2 separate regions of the Homo sapiens genome follow, and region 1 is linked to region 2. A link means that fine-mapping ties the variant in region 2 to the expression of a gene that starts in the linked region. Tissue or cell type: whole blood. Region 2 holds a variant in brackets; the other region holds the start of a gene. All regions are shown on one strand. Distances are between the middles of the regions.

Region 1 (10,051 bases), 26 kb after region 2:
TGAAATCCCCAAATCTCCTGCATATTCACTACTTGGCTAAGAAAGAATCAAAGCGGTCTGTGACTTAAATGCCTGAGGAGGTCTCCCCAGCATTTTCATGCAAGATAGAGATGGTTTGCTACCCACCAAAATCTGTTCTGCCCTTGCACAATAATAGAGTTGTAGCTGGGAAGAGCTGGTCCAGCCGGAACTACATCTCCCAGCCTTCCTTGCAACTTGATGTGGCCATGTGACTAGTTCTCACCAATGGGGTTTAAGTGCATGTGACCTGCTCTACTTCGGACTGGGGCAGCTGTGCCGCCTCCTCACACTCTCCCTTGGTTGGCTGGATGCGTGGGGTGAAGCGGCCCTGGGGTGGTGGAGCCCCAAGAAGAGTCCTGAGTCCCTGGATAATCACTTGGAGGAGAGCTGCCCACAGACCTGGAACGTCTGTCATGGACTGTTAAGTGATCAAGGAATAAACTTGTATTGCATGTAAACCGTTAATATTTTCAGGTTGATATGTTTATATCAGTTTCGTCTATTACAGATATATCCTGCTAAAGCATAGAGGTTTCAGGGGCCAGGCGGGTAATTCAAATGAGTGAAGTGAGCTGAGGTAGTCTTTACTGCCACAGATAAATATGTTTCTTTCTGTTTTTTTTTAAAACATGTGGACTATCTTTCATTTTTCCTACAAAAAATTGTTCAGTTTCTTCCTACAGTCCTTTAAGAAAAATGCAGCTGGGCGAGGTGGCTCCCACCGATAATCCCAGCACTTTGAGAGGAAGAGACAGGAGGATTGCTTGAGGCCAGGAGTTCCAGACCAGTCTGGACAGCAAAGTGAGACCCTTTCTCTACAAAAATAAAAAAAATAAAATAAAATAAAATGAAATAAATAAAATATAAAATTGGCTGGGCGCGGTGACTCACGCCAGTAATCCCAGCACTTTGGAAGGCTGAGGTGGGCGGATCACTTGAGGTCAGGAGTTGGAAACCAGCCTGGCCAACATGGTGAAACCCCGTCTCTACTAAAAATACAAAAATTAGCTAGGTGTGGTGGTGCATGCCTGTAATCCCAGCTACTCGGAGGGCTAAGCCAGGAGAATTGCTTGAACCCAGGGGGTGGAGGTTGCACCATCTCAAAAAAATGTAATACATTACATATATATAGTAATATATATAATATTACATATATATAGTAATATATATGTAATATTACATATATAGTAATACATATATATAATATTACATATATATAGTAATACATATATATAATATTACATATATATTATATATATAAGTTAGCCTGGTGTGGTGGCACACACCCGTAGTCTCAGCTACCTGGGAAGTTGAGATAGGAGGATTCCTTGAGTCCAGGAGGTTGAGGCTGCAGTGCCAGCTTCCTACTCTTAACCTCTCTCTCTTCTCTGAACATGAGTGAGGAAGCACAGAGCCCTGATCCTAAAGCTTGGAATGAGGCTAACCTGAGCATGGTAGAATGGAAAGGGAGAAAGAATCTGAGTCTTTGATGACAACATTGAGCCACTGGTTTGAACTGACATGAAGTGTACCCCATCCCCTAACTGCAGGTTTCATGAACCAATAACCTCCCTGATTGTTTAAGGCAGTTTGAATCATGTTTGCTTTATTTGCAACTGAAGCCGACTGCGTTCAGCAATGAATGATGATAATAATTATGACACTAGATCTCTCAATTCACCTACTACATCCTAAGTGCTTTGGAACCCCCAGCTCTCCATGGTTATTTTCATTTAACAGATGAAGATACCATCTGGGCACAGTAGTTCATACCCGTAATCCCAACATTTTGGGAGGTAGAGGTGGGAAGATTGCTTGAGGCCAGGAGTTCCATTCTGGGCAACACAGCGAGACCCATCTCTACTAAAAATACAAAAATTAGCTGGGACCTGTAGTCCCAGCTACTCAGGAGGCTGAGGCGGGAGAATCGCTTGAGCCTGGGAGGTTGAGGCTGCAGTGAGCTATGATGACACCACTGCACTCCAGCCAGGGAAACAGAGAGACCCTGTCTCGAAAAAACAAACAGGTGAAAAGTGAAGATGCTGCGGTTCAGGGAGGTTGCATTCAAATAATCACAAGGCCATGGAACCAGTTTTCAAAGTATTTAAAATAAAGTTAGGGTAGGGTGTCATGACTCAAACCTGTAATCCCAGCACTTTGTGAGGCTGAGGCCAGGGGATCGTATGAGCCTGAGTTCGAGACCAGCCTGGGCAACATGGTGAAACCCTGTCTCTACAAAAAAATACAAAAATTTGCTGGATGTGGTGGTGCTTGCCTGTAGTCCCAGCTACTCTGGAGCCTGAGGAGGGAGAATTGATTGAGGCTGGGAGGTCGAGGCTGCAGTGAGCCATGATTGTGCCACTGACTCCATTCCAGCATGGGCAACAGAATGAGACAGTGTCTCAAAAACACCACCACCACCACCACTAACAAACGACAACAAAAAACAAAGTTAGTTTTTTTTTTTTTAACAGCTCAGTGAAATAGGTAGGTTAAGTATTATCGCCAGTTTATGGATTAATTAGCAGCTTGGAGAAAATAATTGGCCTGGAGCCCAAGTATGGCTTTAAAACATGAGTAAGGCACTGGCAGAAGTGAAACTAAATAAATGAGCAATCGATATAGTTGTGTTTTTGTTGCCTGAGAGTTACAGTGATTGGGCAAGGGAGGTAACAGTTATTAGGGCACTCCTAAAAAGACTAGTGGATCTCAGACTACCCAGCTATTCCCACGTGCTAAGCAGATATCTTCAAGGCCATTTCTTGGGAATTGTGAGGGCAAAAGGTTTTACACTTTCTCTGTTGCACCAGAAACAGAAGCAAATGTGGCAATGTTGTTCAAGGAATCTTGCAAATTGTAGCTTCCTAGCTCTAAGCTCCAGTTATCTTACCAGCAGCCTCATCAGAAAGCCATATCTCAGCACTGAACTAATCAGAAAGGAAAATGGGGAAAATATCCCACCCATAGAACTGACAAACAATTTCAAATAATAAATTATACAGTGGTGGCATGGTATGAAGAAAATTGCAGCGGTCACATTGGCTCATGCCTGTAATCTCAGCGCTTTGGAAGGCCGAGGCAGGTGGATCACCTGAGGTCGGGAGTTTGAGATCGCCCGGCCAACATGGTGAAACCCCATCTCTACTAAAAATACTAAAATTAGCCAAGCATGGTAGCAGGCGCCTGTAATCCCAGCTACTCGGGAGGCTGAGGCAGGAGAATTGCTTGAACCCGGGAGGTGGAGGTTGCACTGAGCCGAGATCACACCACTGTGCTCCAACCTGGGCAACAGAGCAAAACTCCGTCTCAAAAACAAAAACAAAAACAAAAAAAAAGAAAGAAAGAAAATTGCACAAAACAAAGCTTGAAGAAAGGAGGAAAGAGAAGTGTTATATTTCTGGCTGGGAAGACTAAAACAGACCAACCCAGCAATCCTTCCCAAATTTAAATCCAATTTAATGCAGTTCCAATAAAACATCTACTGACATATTTTGGCATTAAATCAAAATGATCCTAAAGTTCATTTGAAATGGGAAATTAGTAGGGATAACCAGGATTTTAAAAAATAAAGAAAAGGGGACTTGCCTGTATGAAATTAAAATATATTAAAAACTGCAAAATATTGGGAAAAAGCACCCTACAATAACTTAAATTGTTTAAGGTCTTATTAAGTATATGATCTACAAGGGAAGAAAGGGAATATACATATATACACACTTAGACTGGGCAATTTGAATTTCTAGGAACTTATGATGTAGAAAAGCTTGTGTTTGTAGATAGATGGCTACCGAGATGTTCACTGCAGTGCTATTTATAATATGTAAAACAAACAGCTAAGAATATGTTCAGGCCAGCTGCAGTGGCTCACACCTGTAATCCCAGCACTTTGGGAGGGTGAGGTAGGAGGATCACCTGAGCCCAGGAGTTTGAGACCAGCCTGGGTGACAAAGCGAGACCCTGGCTCTACCAAAAAATACAAAAAAAATTTAATTGGGTGTGGTGATGTGCACCTTGTAGTCCTAGCTACTTGGGAGGATCTGGTTGGAGGATCACTTGAGCCCATGAGTTCGGAGGCTGCAGTGAGCTATGATTGTGCCACTGCGCTCCAGCCTGGGCAACAGAGGAAGACTCCATCTCTCAAAATAAATAAATAAAAAGAAAAAGGGGATTATGTTCATATGTTACGATGAGAAAACAGGTTACTAATTTTAAAAGTGAAAAATCTTTAAATGGTAATAACAATGCAAATTCACCTCTTCCCTCCAAAAAATAAAAAATAAAAATAAAATAAAATAAGTAAAGGTTATCAGGCATTTCCCTCTTCTCTCTCTCTCACTCTGTCTCTCTCTCACGCCTTCAGCCTGCAAACCTGAAGACTTCCTTTTTCTGAGAAGACATCAGGTAACTTGTTCCCGTGCCCCTGCCCTCCACGACCCCCACTGCTACTGGGCGTCTCGCTTTGGCGGAAGGTAGTGCGAGATCCGAGCAGGCAGCTCCACCATCAGAGCTGAGGAAATGAAACCAACTCGGTCCTGAGTTCCAGGAACTCGGACCGGGCCACCCTCACCCCTGGTTCTTCCCATCACCGTCCAGGAATTCGGCTGCAGCCCCTCGGCCCCGCCGCCTCCTGGGAAGACCCCATGCTCACCTTCGCGCCTCCCGAGGGGTGTGCGTCCAATCTGTCCCGTGCACAGTTCCAAAAAGCTCGCTCTTCCACCTTCTTTCCCACGACCGCCTCCTGCCCAGGCGAGAAGTTTGCAAACGCGAGGCCCGCGGGAGTTCCCCTGCGCCCCCTTTCCTGGTGCCCGCACCCTGCACTCTGCTGACTGTACCGGACGCCACACGTGGCTGGCGGCGACAAGGCGCCCCGATCCCTACCTGAGGGAAACCCCGGCCACTGCAGCTGCACTTGAGCAGGGTCCCTCCACTCAGCCACTTGGATGGCTGTTTCTGTCCAGTGCCCTCCGGAGGCCACTGCCTCAGGTCTGTGATGCCTGCAGAGAATGCTGCGACACTTCCCCCTCCGACGTGGCTCCAGCTGCCAACCACCAGGCTCACGGTGCCCTGGCTCCCTGGAGCCGCTTTCTAGGCAGCTCGGAGCCACGGCCCCTCCCTTCCTTCCTCCTGTCCTTTCCACACTCTTCCTGCCTTCCCCAAAGTCACTGGGTAACTACGCTGTACACGTCAGTACCAAGCCTTCTTTAGGGGCTGGGGATTCAGAATAGAATAAGGTCCCAGCAACTATTATAACCAGGACACAGTATGAGAAGGACTGGAAGTTTAGAGAAAAACTGAAAGTTGGAGAGAAGCTTCTGGTGTTTGCTTCTCTGTGCTGGATAATATTGGCGGGGTGGGGAGGGTACGAGGGAAGAGACACCAAAGTGGGAAAAAAGTCACTTCCTCTTCTAAGGTCATTGCAGAACATCCTGTTACAGTGTGAGTCAGGTTTTCTTAAGATTAACTACATCTTCAGCTAGAAAGTCTAAGTAGTGTTATGCATTTACTCAACAGACTATTTGCCTCTAAAAGAACAGAACTGGGAGCTGGGTGTGGTGGCTCATGCCTGTAATTCCAGCACTTTGGGAGGCGGAGGTGGCCAGATCACCTGAGGTCAGGAGTTCAAGACCATCCTGGCCAACATGGGGAAACCCTGTCTCTACTAAAAATACAAAAATTAGCCAGGCGTGGTGGTGCATGCCTGTAATCCCAGCTACTCGGGAGCCTGAGAGGGGAGAATCGCTTGAAGCCGGCCTTGGAGATTCATTTCTTCGCCTTGCTATTGTTCTTCGTCTCCTGCATCATCAGTTTTCTTCCTGTCTTAGGTGAAGAGATTGAGGTGAGGCAGGAGAATAGGGTCTGCAGGCAGGGAACATAAAGCTGATTCACGCTGACTTCTTAGAACTAAATAAAATGGACACATTTCAGCTATGACAGGAAATATTTTCTTCATTTACATATGGCGTTCACTGAGTAAGTGACTGAGCAACTTCACTTCATCTTCTTCATTTACATAGGGTGTACACCAATTAACCAATGGGAGCCTCTAGAGGGTATTTAAATCCCAGAAAATTCTGTAACGGAGTTCTTGAGCCCCTATGCTCACGCTGGCTCCCACCCTGTGGAGTGTACCTTTGTTTTCAATACATCTCTGCTTTTGTTGCCTCATTCTTTCCTTGCTTTGTGCATTTTGCCCATTTCTTTGTTCAAGATGCCAAGAACCTGGACACCTTCAACAAGTAACACAGGTGCCTGTGATTTATTGAAGGAAGACTCTTAGGAGAGTGGTGGGTATGATAGGGCAGAGGAAGAAAAAGTGAAACAAGTATGTAGTCAGTGGAGGCTCCATGGGGAGGTCTGGAATGTGAAGGTCTGGAACAAGAGGCAGCCTCCTTTCTGCCCAGGGCAATTCTTCTGGACGAGGGGGAAGCTGTGTGAGTGTTTAGCTGTCAACACTCATAGCAGCTGCAGGATGGGTATACTGATCTGCTATAAACAAAATCATACAATGTATAACCTTTTGGAAGTTTTTTTCTTTTCTTTTCTTTTTTTTTTTTTTTACTGTCCCACCATCAATGTACAAGACATTCAGTTTCTCTGCATCCTCAGCAGCATTTTATTTTGTCCCTGCCTGAATTTTTAGCTATTCTAACAGGTGAATAGTGATATATCATCATGGTTTTTTGTTTTGTTTTGTTTTGAGATAGAGTCTTACTCTGTTGCCCAGGCTGGAGTGCAGTGGCGCCATCTCAGCTCACTGCAACCTCCACCTCCTGGGTTCAAGCGATTCTCCAGCCTCAGCCTCCCAAGTAGCTGGGACTACAGGCGTGCACCACCACACCTGTCTATTTTTTGTATTTTTAGTAGAGACAGCGTTTCGCCATATTGGCCAGACTGGTCTCGAACTCCTGACCTCAGGTGATCCACCCACCTTGGCCTCCCAAAGTGCTGGGATTATAGGCATGAGCCACTGCGCCTGGTCTCATCATGGTTTTAATTGGCATTTCTTTAGTGCCTGGTGATGATGGACATGTTTTCATGTGCTTGTTTGCCATCTGTATAGCCTCATTGGTGAAATGTCTGTCCATGTCTTTTGCCCATTTTTAGTTGAATTCTTTTTAAAAAACTTGAGTTTTGAGAGTTTAAATATTCTAGATATTAATCCTTTGCCAGATAGGTGGTGTTCAAATGGTGGTGGAGTAACTGAACAAAAAAATGAACTTCACCTAAACCTCATATTCTATGCAAAAATTGCCTGAATGGATCAGAGATTTAAATGTAAAATGTAAAACAAGGAACCTTTTAGAAGAAAGCAGAGAGAACTGTGCAGAATGAAAGGACATTTCCTGTTGAGAAAATGTAAATGTTTGAAAAAAGTTTAGGGCCGGTCGCAGTGGCTCACGCCTGTAATCCCAGCACTTTGGGAGGCCGAGGTGGGCGGATCACGAGGTCAGGAGATTAAGACCATCCTGGCTAACACGGTGAAACCCCATCTCTACTAAAAATACAAAAAAAAATTAGCCGGATGTGGTGGCGGGTGCCTGTAGTCCCAGCTACTCGGGAGGCTGAGGCAGGAGAACGATGTGAACCCAGGAGGCGGAGCTTGCAGTGAGCCGAGATCGCGCCATTGCACACCAGCCTGGGTGGCAGAGTGAGACTCCGTCTCAAAAAAAAAAAAAAAAAAAAAGAAAAGAAAAAAGTTTAAATGAGCCCTTTAAAATGTTTTTATTTTTAGTAGAGACAGAGGTCTCCCTGTGTTGCTGAGGCTGATCTTGAACTTCTGAACTCAAGCAATCCTCATGCCTTGGCCCCCCAAAGTGTTGGGATTACGAGCTTGAGCCACCTTGCCTGGCCAAATGAGTCTATTTAATAAGAATGGCTATTCATACTAAAAATTGTACAATATTAAAAATAATTCCCAGTTTCTTTGGCTTTATCTTGGAGTTGCCATTTGAAAAAAAAAATCACAAACATTTGAAAAAAAAAAAAACTTGTAGAACATGTAGAAGAAAATCTTCAGAACCTAAGGCTAGGCGAAGAATTCTTAGGCATAACATCAAAGCCATTATTATTCTTTCTTCTTTTCTTTTTCTTTCTTTTTTTTTTTTTTGAGACGGAGTCTCCCTCTGTTGCCAGGCTGTAGTGCAGTGCTGTGATCTCAGCTTACTGCAACCTCCACCTCCAGGGCTCAAACAATTCTCCTGCCTCAGCCTTCCAACAAGCTGGGACTACAGGCATGTGCCACCACGCTTGGCTAGTTTTTTTTTGTATTTTTAGTAGAGATGGAGTTTTAGCATGTTGGCCAGGCTGGTCTCGAACTCCTGACCTCAAGTGATCTACCTGCCTTGGCCTCCCAAAGTGCTGGGATTACAGGCATGAGCCACTGCGCCTGGCCCCAAAGCCATTATTCTTAAAATTAAAAAATGATAAATCAGACTTGATCAAAATTTGAAACTTGCTCTGCAAAGACCCTTTTAAGGGGATGAAAAGACAAGTTACAGATTGGGAGAAAATGTTTGCAAATCACATGTCAAATAATATGCTTCTAAATAATTCATGAGTCAAAAAGGACATTTTCTCAAGAGAAATGAAGATATATTTTGCTCAATAAATTTAAACAGATCAAAATCATACAAAGCATCTTCTTTGACCACAATAGAATAAAACTAGAAATAAATAACAGAAAGAGAACTGGAATATTCACAAATATGCAGAAATTAAACAACATACACTTAAACAACTAGTGGGACAAAGAAGAAATCACAAGGGAAATTAGAAAATACTTCGAGACAAATAAAAGATACAACATGCCAAAACTTAGGGGATGCAGCAAAAACAGTTCTCAAAGGATAATTTATAGCTACATGGCTACAAAAGAGAAAAAGAGAGAGGCCTGGTGCCGTGGCTCATGCCTGTAATCCCAGCACTTTGGGAGGCTGAGGCGGGTGGATCACGAGGTTAGGAGTTCAAGACCAGCCTGGCCAACACGGTGAAACCCCGTCTGCTAAAAATACAAAAAAAAAAAAAAAAAAAATAGCCCGACGTGATGGCGGGCACCTGTAATCTCAGCTACTCAGGCGGCTGAGGCAGGAGAATCGCTTGAACCCAGGAGGCAGAGGTTGTAGTGAGCCAAGATCATGCCACTGCACTCCAGCCTGGGTGACAGAGTGAGACTCCATCTCAAAAAAAAAAAAAAAAAAAAGAGAGAGAGAGATCTCAAATCATTATCCCAACTCTACCCTTTAAGGAACTAGTAAAAGAAGAACAAATCAAACCCAAAACTAGCAGAAGGGAGGAAATTACCAAGATCAGAAAAGAGAAAATCAATGAAACTGAAAGTTAGTTCTTTGAAAAGATTAATAAAATTGACGAATCCTTAGCTAAACTAAAACAAAAAGAAGATGAAAATAACTTAAATCAGAAATGAAAGTGGGGACCTTACTATCTACCTTACAGAAATAAAAAGGACTATGAGAGAAAACTATGAACAATTGTTTGCCAACCAATTAGGTAACCTAGAGGATATGGACAAATTCCCAGGCACGCAAAATTTACCTAATTCACTCAATGAGAAATAGAAAATCTGAACATACCTACAACAAGTAAAGAAATTGAATTAATAATCAAAACTCCTCCAAACAAGTAAAGTCCAGGCCTAATAGTTTTACAGTAAATTCTACCAAACATTTTTTTCTTTCTTGGAGACTTTTATTTATTGTATTTATTATATTTTTTTATTATATTTTAAGTCCTGGGGTACAGTGCAGAATGTGCAGTTTTGTTACATAGGTATACACGTGCCATGCTGGTTTCCTGCACCCATCAACCCGCCACCTACATTAGGTATTTCTCCTAATGCTATCCCTTCCCTAGCCCCCACCACCTGACAGGCCCTGGTGGGTGATGTTCACTTCCCTGCGTCAATGTGTTCTCATTGTTCAACTCCCACTTATGAGTGAGAACATGCGGTGTTTTCTACCAAACATTTAAAAATAAATTACCACCAATCATTCTCAAACTCTTCCAAAAATAG
Region 2 (10,051 bases):
AGGTACAGGGCCTTGGAAGGCATCCTGTGCAAGTAAAAGGCCCTGAAGATTAAGCTTTATCAGGCTTATAGTAAATTCACCTATAATAATTGTGGGTCTGCCAGAGTATGAATAATTCATCTACCAGGGAGAATTTTCACTGTAACTCCTACAGTAAATAGAACAAATGATTTTAAAGATGAAAACAGTGGCTGGGCATGGTGGCTCATGCCTGTAATCCCAGCACTTTGGGAGGACAAGGTGGGCGGATCCCTTGAGGTCAGGAGTTCCAGACCAGCAGACCCTGCCTCTGAAAAAAAAGAAAAAAGAAAAAAGGAAGGAAGGAAAATAGTAAAATAGTAATACCTGCCAGTAAGTTCTACAAAATAATCATATTAAGTTTATATTCTTCTGCATTTTTTATTTATAGAAAAAAACCATGTTCTAGGTTTTAAAAAAATCAAGGATAAGTAAAAGATAAAAACATAAGGCCGAGTGTGGTGGCTTATGCCTGTAATCCCAGCACTTTGGGAGGCCAAGGTGGGAGTATCACTTGCGCCCAGAAGTTCAAGACTAGCCTAGGCAACACAGTGAAACCCTGTCTCATAATAATAATAATAATAGTAATAGAAATCAGCCATAATTTTCTTCACCAGAGATGATTACTAGAATACAAGACCCAAATGTATTTTTATTGCTGTCTTCTCAGTGATTGAAACAATGGACAGCACATTTGCTGTTGAATGATTTAGAATGAGTTCTGAAAAAAATGTAACTTTAAAGACAGGGATTAGTGTATCCTAGGCAAAGCACACACCATGAACAAAGGTATAAGATCTAAAATGAGACCAGGTGTGGTGGCTCATGTCTGTAACCCCAGCACTTTGGGAGGCCGAGGTGGGCAGATCACTTGAGGTCAGGAGTTCGAGACCAGCCTGACCAACATGGTGAAATGCTGTCTCTACTAAAAATACAAAAATTAGCCAGGTGTGGTGGCACACACCTGTAATCCCAGACACTTGGGAGGCTGAGACAGGAGAATCGCTTGAACCTGCAAGGCGGAGGTTGCAGTGAGCCGAGATTGCGCCACTGCACTCCAGCCTGGCCAACAAGAGTGAAACTCTAGGCCGGGCGCGGTGGCTCACACCTGTAATCCCAGCACTTCAGGAGGCCGAGGCGGGTGGATCACCTGAGGTCAGGAGTTCGAGACCAGCCTGACCAACATGGTGAAACCCCCATCTCTACTAAAAAATACAAAAAGTTAGCCGGGTGTGATGGTGAGCACCTGTAATCCCAACTACTTAGGAGGCTGAGGCAGGAGAATCGCTTGAACCCAGGAGGCAGAGGTTCCAGTGAGCCAAGATTGCACCACTGCACTCCAGCCTGGGCGTGACAGAGCAAGACTCCGTCTTAAAAAAAGAAATCTAGAATGAAAGCACCACAAACATGGGTTTGAGTCTGGCAGGGATTAAAATCTGGCAGCTCCTATGTGGACATATTTTGTTTGTCTTATCAGCATTAAAATAATTTTTTTTTTGAGACAGGGTCTCACTCTGTCACTCAGGCTGGAGTGCAGTGGTGCAATCATGCCTCACTGCAACCTCCGCCTCCCAGGTTCAAACGATTCTCATGCCTCAGCCTCCCGAGTAGCTGGGATTACAGGCATGTGGCAGCCACACCCAGCTAATTTTTGTATTTTTAGTAGAAACAGGGCTTCACCATGTTGGCAAGGCTGGTCTCGAACTCCTGACCTCAGATGATCCTCCCGCCTGGGCCTCCCAAAGCGCTGGGATTTCAGGCATGAGTCACCGTGCCCAGCCTAAAATAATTTTTAATGAGATACTGACCTTTAAAAATAAGGACATCACAGAAAAATCCAACTTTCTAGCTCTTTTGACAAAATGGAAAGCTCTAGAAATGTTGGGATCCCATTCTATGTGACAAAGTATAGACTGGAGTTGAGGAGACGCTGTTCTTGCTCATCTGCCCACTGAAGCCCCCTCCAGGTTCAAATCATTCATTTAGTTTCCTTCCTAGGCCCTATGGGTATTAGAGTTTGCAATCTCTGGTAGGAGAACTCTGGCATCTGATTGGAAAGTCAGGTTGGAAAGTATGGTATGGGGGATATCCATAAGGCTATGGATATCCAAATAGGAAGTTTGTACTTGATTCCTTGGGCAAGAGGAAGAATTGAACAGTTTCTGCCTAGTTACTTCTGTTGTGTAAAAAACCACCACAAAACTTAGTGTTAAGACAACAGTAATTTATTTAGCTCCTGATTGTGTGAATGGGCAATTTGGGCTGGGATCTGCTTGAGTGGTTCTTCTGGTCTTGATTGGCCTCATTCATGTGTTAGCTGCCATGTTGGTTGGGCTAGTATGACTTCAGCTAGGAAAGCATGTTTCTGCTTCATGTGGTCTCTCATTCTCCAGCATGCTCACTCAACATGTTCATGGCTGGGTAAGGTTCCAACAGACATTTATAAGGCCTCTTGAAACCTAGGCTTGGAACTGGCATACAGTCACTTCTTCCACATTCTATTGATCAAATCAAGTCACAGTGCCAGCCCAGATTCAAATGGTGGGGAAAGAGACTTCATTTATGGAAGGGAGGAGCTGCAAATTTCATTGCCAAGAGGTGTGGATACCCAGAAAGATACATTTGACAAACCATCTATCAAAGTTACTGTCAGAGGTATGTTTTTGGAAATATCATTTGGAGTGGGATGTGTCCTGTATGACTGGAATCGTTTTCTATTTGTAACAGAGAAGCGTGCCCACTCCTTGCACCCATAGATAACCCAATGCCGAAGGATATGAGAGAGAGAGATGTCCAGTTTGTGCCTCTCCCAGCTTCTTGTCCAGAGACTCCTTGGTTTAGATTTTGATACACTACTTAGAAAAGGTGGAGAGTTTCTTTAAGATTTCTGTGGATGAATGAACAGAAAATTAGACCAGGGTAGGCAGCTGAGAGCCAAGTTAGAAACACAAAGACATTTCTACATTGCACAGTCATTTAGAAACTGCATTCCCCCTGGTCTGGCTGGTGCCTGAACCACCATCAGCACTCACACATTTGGGATATAAAGTTCTCTTACTTGATCAACTTTTAAAACACAAACACCTCACAGGAGGGGGTAAACTCACATCTTAGTATGAATTACTCTCTGGTGTTAGATTCCTTAATACTAGGAGGACCCTAGGTTGTAAGGGAGCTTGGTAGAAGAAGAAAGAAGACAGAGGAGAGAGTGTAGTGGAGGACAGCATTGTATAAATCACTGTTGGCTTCTCATCCACCCCAAAGACCAATTTTTCAGAACACATCATTAAGTCTGCGCTTCTGCTCTGTGGTGGTGAAGAGAAAGTTTCAGACAGAAACTATGCCGTGACTTTGATTCTTCATTCTGAAAGGTAGGGATGTGGATGAAGGGAGAGGAGAGATGACAGATGAGACCCTCTCAGGTAGTGTGAGAGGTTTTCCCAACAGACCATCTGTGAGAAGGCCTTGAAGAACAGTCCTCATGCTCAAGACTTCTGTAAGCAGACAGAACATCCTTGGAAGCTGCCTCAAAAGTCTGGACTCATGGCTCTTTAGTTCCTTCTTCTTTTCTTTCTTTCTCTTTTGAGACAGAGTCTTGCTCTGTCACCCAGGCTGGAGTACAGTGGCGCGATCTTGGCTCACTGCAACCTTTGCCTCTGGGGTTCAAGCAATTCTCCTGCCTCAGCTTCCTGAGTAGTTGGGATTACCGGTGTGTGCCACTATGCCCAGCTATTTTTTGTATTTTTAGTAGAGATAGGGTTTCACCATGTTGGCCAGGCTGGTGTTGAACTCCTGACCACAAGTGATCTGCCTGCCTCAGCCTCCCAAAGTGCTGAGATTACAGGTGTGAGCCACTGCACCCGGCCCCTTCTCTCTTTTGTCTGGGCTTTGTGGAAAGTCTGGGAGATTTAGGTCTAGGGTATGAGAGAGAGATGCTTCCAGGGAGGGAGACAGTGTAAGGAAGCTATGGAGAAGCAGCTGATGACATGGTGAGATAAAAGTCTGCATCGAGGAAATAATCCCAAGGATGCTGAAAAAAGGAAGGAAGGCAGACAAGGAGGGAGGAAAAAAGGAGAAAGATAGTCAAAAATAAAACAAGAGAGAGGAAAAAGAAGAGAGATAGAAAGACAAAAAGACAACAAGATAATGCTGCTGTGGTGGTGCCTGTTGTCCTAGCTACTCTAGAGACTAAGGCAGGAGGATCACTTGAGCCCAGGAGTTTGAGGCTATAGAGTGCCATGATCCTACCTGTCAATAGCCACTGCACTCTGGCCTGGGCAACATAATGAGACCTCCTCTCTAAAAAAAAAAAAAAAAAAAACCATAAATAGGCAGACAGATAAATAAAGGAAGGAAATAGGCAGGAAGAAAGTAATCTGCCTTTCCAACCCACTTTGGATAAAACAATGCCCTCTGGAAGCCCTTACACTATTGACATTGGGGCTGCCAGAGAGTTCTTTGTGTGGTGGGCTGTCCTATGCGTTGTAGGATGTTGAATAGCATTCTTTTTTTTTTTTTTTTGAGATGGAGTCTTGCCCTGTTGTCCAGGCTGGAGCGCAGTGGCGTGATCCTGACTCTGCAACCTCTGCCTCCTGGGTTCAAGTGATTCTCTTGCCTCAGCCTCCTGAGTAGCTGGGACTACAGGCATGCGCCAATATACTTGGCTAATTTTTGGGTTTTTAATAGAGACGAGGTTTCATCATGCTGGCCAGGGTGGTCTCAAACTCCTGAGCTCAGGCGATCCACCCACCTTGGCCTCGCAAAATGTTGGGATTATAGGCATGAGCCACCGCGCCTGGCCAACATTTTTTTTTTTGAGACGGAGTCTTGTTTTGTCACCCAGGCTGGAGTGCAGTGGTACAGTGGCGTGATCTTGGCTCACTGCAACCTCCCAGTTTCAAGAGATTCTCATGCCTCAGCCTCCTGAGTAGCTGGGATTACAGGCATGTACCACCATGGCTAGCTAATTTTAGTAGAGATGAGGTTTCACCATGTTGGCCAGGCTGGTCTCAAACTCCTAACCTCAAGTGATCTGCCCATCTCAGCCTCCCAAAGGGCTAGAATTACAGGCATGAGCAACCGCACCCAGCCATCATCCTTGGCCTTTATTCACTAGATGACAGTAGCACACTCCATCCTACCTCCCTGGCCTTATGACAAACAACAATGTTTCAGACATCACTAAATGTTCCCCGGATAAAACCACCCCTCGTTGTAAACTACTGCCTTGGAGCTGGTGAAAAGGAAATCTTTCACAAGTGTGAAATAATGATGGGGCTCACGCTCTTTACACCAGAAAGAACCCTACCATCCACAGAGGGCCGCACAGAGGGATCATGGGCCCGGCACTCATCAATGATCTCCCGCAGCTCTGAAGGGCAGTCTTCACCCAGTGGCTCCTGCTGCCGCTTCACAGCCACCAGCTTGCGGATCTTCTCAGAATTACAGCCTGGAAATGATAGCATGAGAGCCTCAAAAAATTGCTCCGCTACTCGTACATCTCTCTGGATGCTGATGGCTGGCATCAGAACTAGGGACTCTGAGTATGGAAACAACAAGAACTTCCAACGATTCCACTGACCAGCCCAGGCAGTTCCCACATTAAACAACAAATTGCCAGGGGCAGCACTGATGGGGAATTTCTGGTCTACTGGAAGGGGACCCAACCTCACCACTGGCTGAGCCAGTCTTCACATTCTTCACCTTGAAACGGGATATCTCCAGTGGCGATTTCCCAGAGGACGATTCCAAAGCTAAAAGAAAACCAAGAAACTGAACAACCATAACTAGTCTCCCCTTTCCCCTGTCCCTCTAGCCACTGCCAGAAAACTCAGTGAATTTTTTGATTACTACCCAATTTCATTCAACAGAGTTGAGTTTAGGTGGTCCTTGGAGGAGTTTGATTTGGGTTTTCCTATTATGCACATCTGAGTTAGAATCTGTACCAGAACGTGAGTGTACCTGTATATTTCAGACTTTACATCATATTGATAAAATACATCTTCCAGTTCCTGAGGTGAGAGATATGCTGTAGATTTGA[CTCTG/C]TCTGTCTTTTCTCTCGTAGTTCCCAAACTCATGGAAGTCTGTGTTTTCCTCAACTCAAATCCTGCAAGCTAGATAGAGAGGCAACTTAGAAAGAAACAAGCAAGATCTTGGGTAGAGGAGTAAAGGGCAGGGATTGTTGCTACACACAATTGCCAGGGAATTGTCTTTTACCTTAGGGATTTATTTCCTGTCGTGACTTCTGTCTGTGTGGCTACTTTATTGGTTAACATTATGGGTTCAACTTATCACAGTGCAGTGACCAAGAGAAACACAAAGAGATTTCTTCTGTATAAAATGGGGCGATGACAGGGGGGATTACTTGAGATAATGGTTATAAAGCACCAGTAAGACCTGCTAAGTTGTAGTTGTTGCCAGTATGACTATGTTAAAATGTAGGGGTTTCTCAGTTGAGGACTGAACTCCACTCAGTGAGAGTGGAGAGGGGTCATAGAGCCACTGCCTGGCTCGCCTTTTCCCAAAGAAGCAGATGGAAAAATGGCATGGGGGCATCCCCTCTGTGCTATCTGACTTTATGGGGGGTCAGCCTGATCCTTTGGCTTTGGCGTGACGAGTGTGAGTCATCCCCCCAGGCCTGCGCGGTCACCTGGTGTTCTTAAAGAAACTGTAGCACAATCATGACAGCATATGTTCTTGTCCCATGCACACCTGCCATTGACACCATTGGTGTGCTGAAGGCTGCCAGCCCCAAACTCAGCCAGGTACCCAAATCTAGGGGCAATGTGAGAAAAGGGATAAGGCACTTAGATGGCTCATCCCCCTTTCATTCATTCATTCATTCATTTGCTCACACGTTTCCTGAGCACTGACATTCTCTTACATCTAGCGCCGTATGGGATACCAGGGATGAAAGGTGGAATAGCGCATCTTATAGTCAGGCTGCATGAAGAGCGTGAGAGTAGTAGAAACAGTGTTTTGGGAGTACTTATATCACCATCGCAGAGGGGGAAAGGCATCTGAAAGGCAAAAAAGGCCTGTCTGCTATTATTTGAGGGCTGTCTCTGACACTCGTAGGACTGGAAGAAAGAAAACCGTCTATGGATGACAAAGAAAACTGCTAAAATTCTTTTAGCATTTGGGAATTGTGGACACTGAGTTCACAAAATCTTTTCCTCTTCTGTATGAAAATCTGACTTCCAGTGAACTTCTTAGCTCTGTTCCCCTGGAAATCTGATACAGGTAGACTGTCACCTATGGCTCTTAGTAACATTGCTGATGATGAAAATAAAAATGACTGCTGATTGTTAGATTGCTTCTGGGCAGGATCAAGGGGGTAACAGGACTACACAGTAAACAGCTGATGGGAATGCTTTGTAGCAAATTTTTCTTATTTATTTATTTATTTATTTATTTTTTGAGACGGAGTCTCACTCTGTCGCCCAGGTTGGAGAGCAGTGGTGCAATCTCAGCTCACTGCAAGTTCTGCCTCCTGGGTTCATGCCATTCTCCTGCCTCAGCCTCCGGAGTAGCTGGGACTACAGGCACCTGCCACCACGCCTGGCCAATTTTTTGTATTGTTTAGTAGAGACAGGGTTTCACTGTGTTAGCCAGGATGGTCTCGATCTCCTAACCTCATGATCCACCTGCCTTGGCCTCCCAAAGTGCTGGGATTACAGGTGTGAGCCACCGCGCCCAGCCTCTTTTTTATTTTTTGAGACAGGGTCTCATTCTGTTGCCCAGGCTAGGGTATACAGTGGCGTAAACATAGCTCCCTGCAGCCTTGACCTCCTGGGCTCTAGGCATCCTCCTCCTGCCTCACTCTCCTGAGTAGCTGGAATTACAGGTGTGCACCACCATGACTGGCTGATTTTTAAATTTTTTGAAGAGGGGGAGGTCTCACTGTGTTGCCAAGGCTGGTCTTGAACTCTTGGGCTCAAAGTGATCCTCCTGCCTTCCCTTCCAAAGTGCGGGGATTACAGGCATAAGCCACCATGCCTGGCCATGTAGCAGCTCTTTTCTTTTCTTTTTTCTTTTTTTTTGGAGATGGAGTTTTGCTGTTGTTGCCCGGGCTGGAGTTCAACCACGCGATCTCGGCTCACTGCAAACCTCTGCCTCCCGGGTTCAAGTGATTCTCCTGCCTCAGCCTCCTTAGGAGCTGGGACTAGAGGCGTGCGCCACCACACCCGGCTAATTTTTTGTATTTTTAGTAGAGACAGTGTTTCACTATGTTGGCCAGGCTAGTCTTGAACTCCTGACCTCAGGTGATCCACCCGCCTTAGCCTCCCTAAGTGTTGGGATTACAGGCGTGAGCCACCATACCCAGATGTGGCAGCTCTTAAAACAGCAACTCACATGTCACTTGCAGAAACACTGGAAGGCATGCCTGCAGAGTTGTTACCAGAGATGCTGACTCCTGCAGGTCATGGGCTTCTAAGCCTGGATGACCCACACCCACCTAATGGGAGCCTCTTTCTCCAGCACCTGTGGCTCTGACAAAGAGAGTATCTCCTGGATGACTGCGAGGACTCACCCTGGAGGGAAAGGTTTGGCGCTGCTGACATCCTTCTAAGTAACTGAATGACAAGTGTGGCCTAGACCTGTCCTGTGAGTCTGAGTCCTTAAACCTAACAAGATCCCCCATTGTATGTTGTAGGGACATAGAAGTGGTGTCCAGGCATCTAAGGGGAAATGACTTGTAGCCCATCCCTGCTAAATGGGCAGTGAGGGAAGGCAGTCATCAGAACAGGCGGCATAGATGGAGACTGTTGTGTGGTGGGCACACAGAAAGTTGAAGTTAGTTCTGAAACTAAAAAACTAAAATTGAACTCAGTTCTAAAACCAAGGCAAGGCCGGGCATGGTGGCTCATGCCTGTAATCCCAGCACTTTGGGAGGCCCAGGTGGGCGGATCACTTGAGGCCAGGAGTTCAAAACCAGCTGGCCAACATGGTGAAACCCTGTCTCTACTAAAAATGCAAAAATTAGTCAGGAGTGGTGGTGCATGGCTGTAATCCCAGCTACTTGGGAGGCTGAGGCAGGAGAATCGCTTGAACCTGGGAAGCAGAGGTTGCAGCGGGGCGATCTCGCTCACTGCCCTCCAGCTTGGGTGACAGAAAGAGACTCTGTCTCTAAATAAATAAATAAATAAACTAAGACAAGAATCAAGCCTTTCTGAGACACTCGTGCCCCTCTCATAGCACCAGTCATGCAGGTTTGACCCAAAGCGCCCCCGCAAGGCACACTCACCTTCACTTGGTAGCCTTGAGTTACCAGGAAGTTTGAGCTTCTGATTTTTCCGTGGAGTTCAGGTGCTTCTGAATGGTGTAGCCTGACACAGCCAAAGGCGGGGAGCATAAGTACCTTTGCCCAAACTTTCTTTGGGGGACTGACAATCATAACTGGGCTGATGAGGCTGGACAGTACCATGGGTGCCTGTCCACAGTTACACAGGAAAAACTGGGATGTAGAGGCAAGGTTTGAGAATCACAAGCCGTGAGTATAGAACAGAGATGAGATTCATAGCACAAGGGGGCATGACAGCCCTTATGAAGTGCATGCAATCGGGCATCAGGGGTGCCTTTAGGTAGAGAAGGACAACGTTGCCTCTGTGTTGCTTTGCCTGGGAAGTGCTGGGCAGATCCGAGAGCTCAGAGGCATGGCTGGGTGGCTGGACCTTGCTGGGACCCTTCAGGTCAAAGCAGAATGTGAAGCTGGGGTCCCGCTGACTTCCAGACAAGGGCTTTGGTTTCACAAAGCCCCTGCGTCCCAGGTTGGGTTGCACTCATGGTGTCTGCCTGAGCTCAGATTCTCCCAGAAGCAGATCATGAGCCATGATTTGGGCACGAGGGATTTGTATCAAGAAGGTGCTCCCTTGACCAGGCATGGTGGCTTGCGCTTATAATCCCCACACTTTGGGAGACCAAGGTGGATGGATCACTTGAGGTCAGGAGTTTGAGACCAGCTTCGCCAACATGGTGAAACATCATCTCTACTATTAATAAAAATACAAAAAAATAGCTGGGCGTGGTGGCA

Evidence for each region. PIP is the estimated chance that this variant, and not a neighbour inherited with it, causes the effect.
Region 1: MLKL starts here. The variant in region 2 is fine-mapped to the expression of MLKL in whole blood (TOPMed, PIP above 0.99).

What each region holds. Positions count from the first base shown.
Region 1 is chr16:74,695,784-74,705,834 of GRCh38, forward strand. MLKL (mixed lineage kinase domain like pseudokinase) reads right to left here and starts at 5,079. Exons shown (of 11, transcript NM_152649.4): 1 at 4,670-5,079. RefSeq lists an enhancer at 4,533-4,982.
Region 2 is chr16:74,669,634-74,679,684 of GRCh38, forward strand. It overlaps MLKL (mixed lineage kinase domain like pseudokinase), which reads right to left. Exons shown (of 11, transcript NM_152649.4): 7 at 9,266-9,347; 8 at 5,980-6,131; 9 at 5,722-5,771; 10 at 5,327-5,467; 11 at 2,222-2,905. The coding sequence ends at 2,871. Among named protein-coding and RNA genes, the nearest start is that of RFWD3, 7.8 kb to the left of the region's middle. The variant CTCTG/C (reference allele first, on the strand shown) is at 6,059.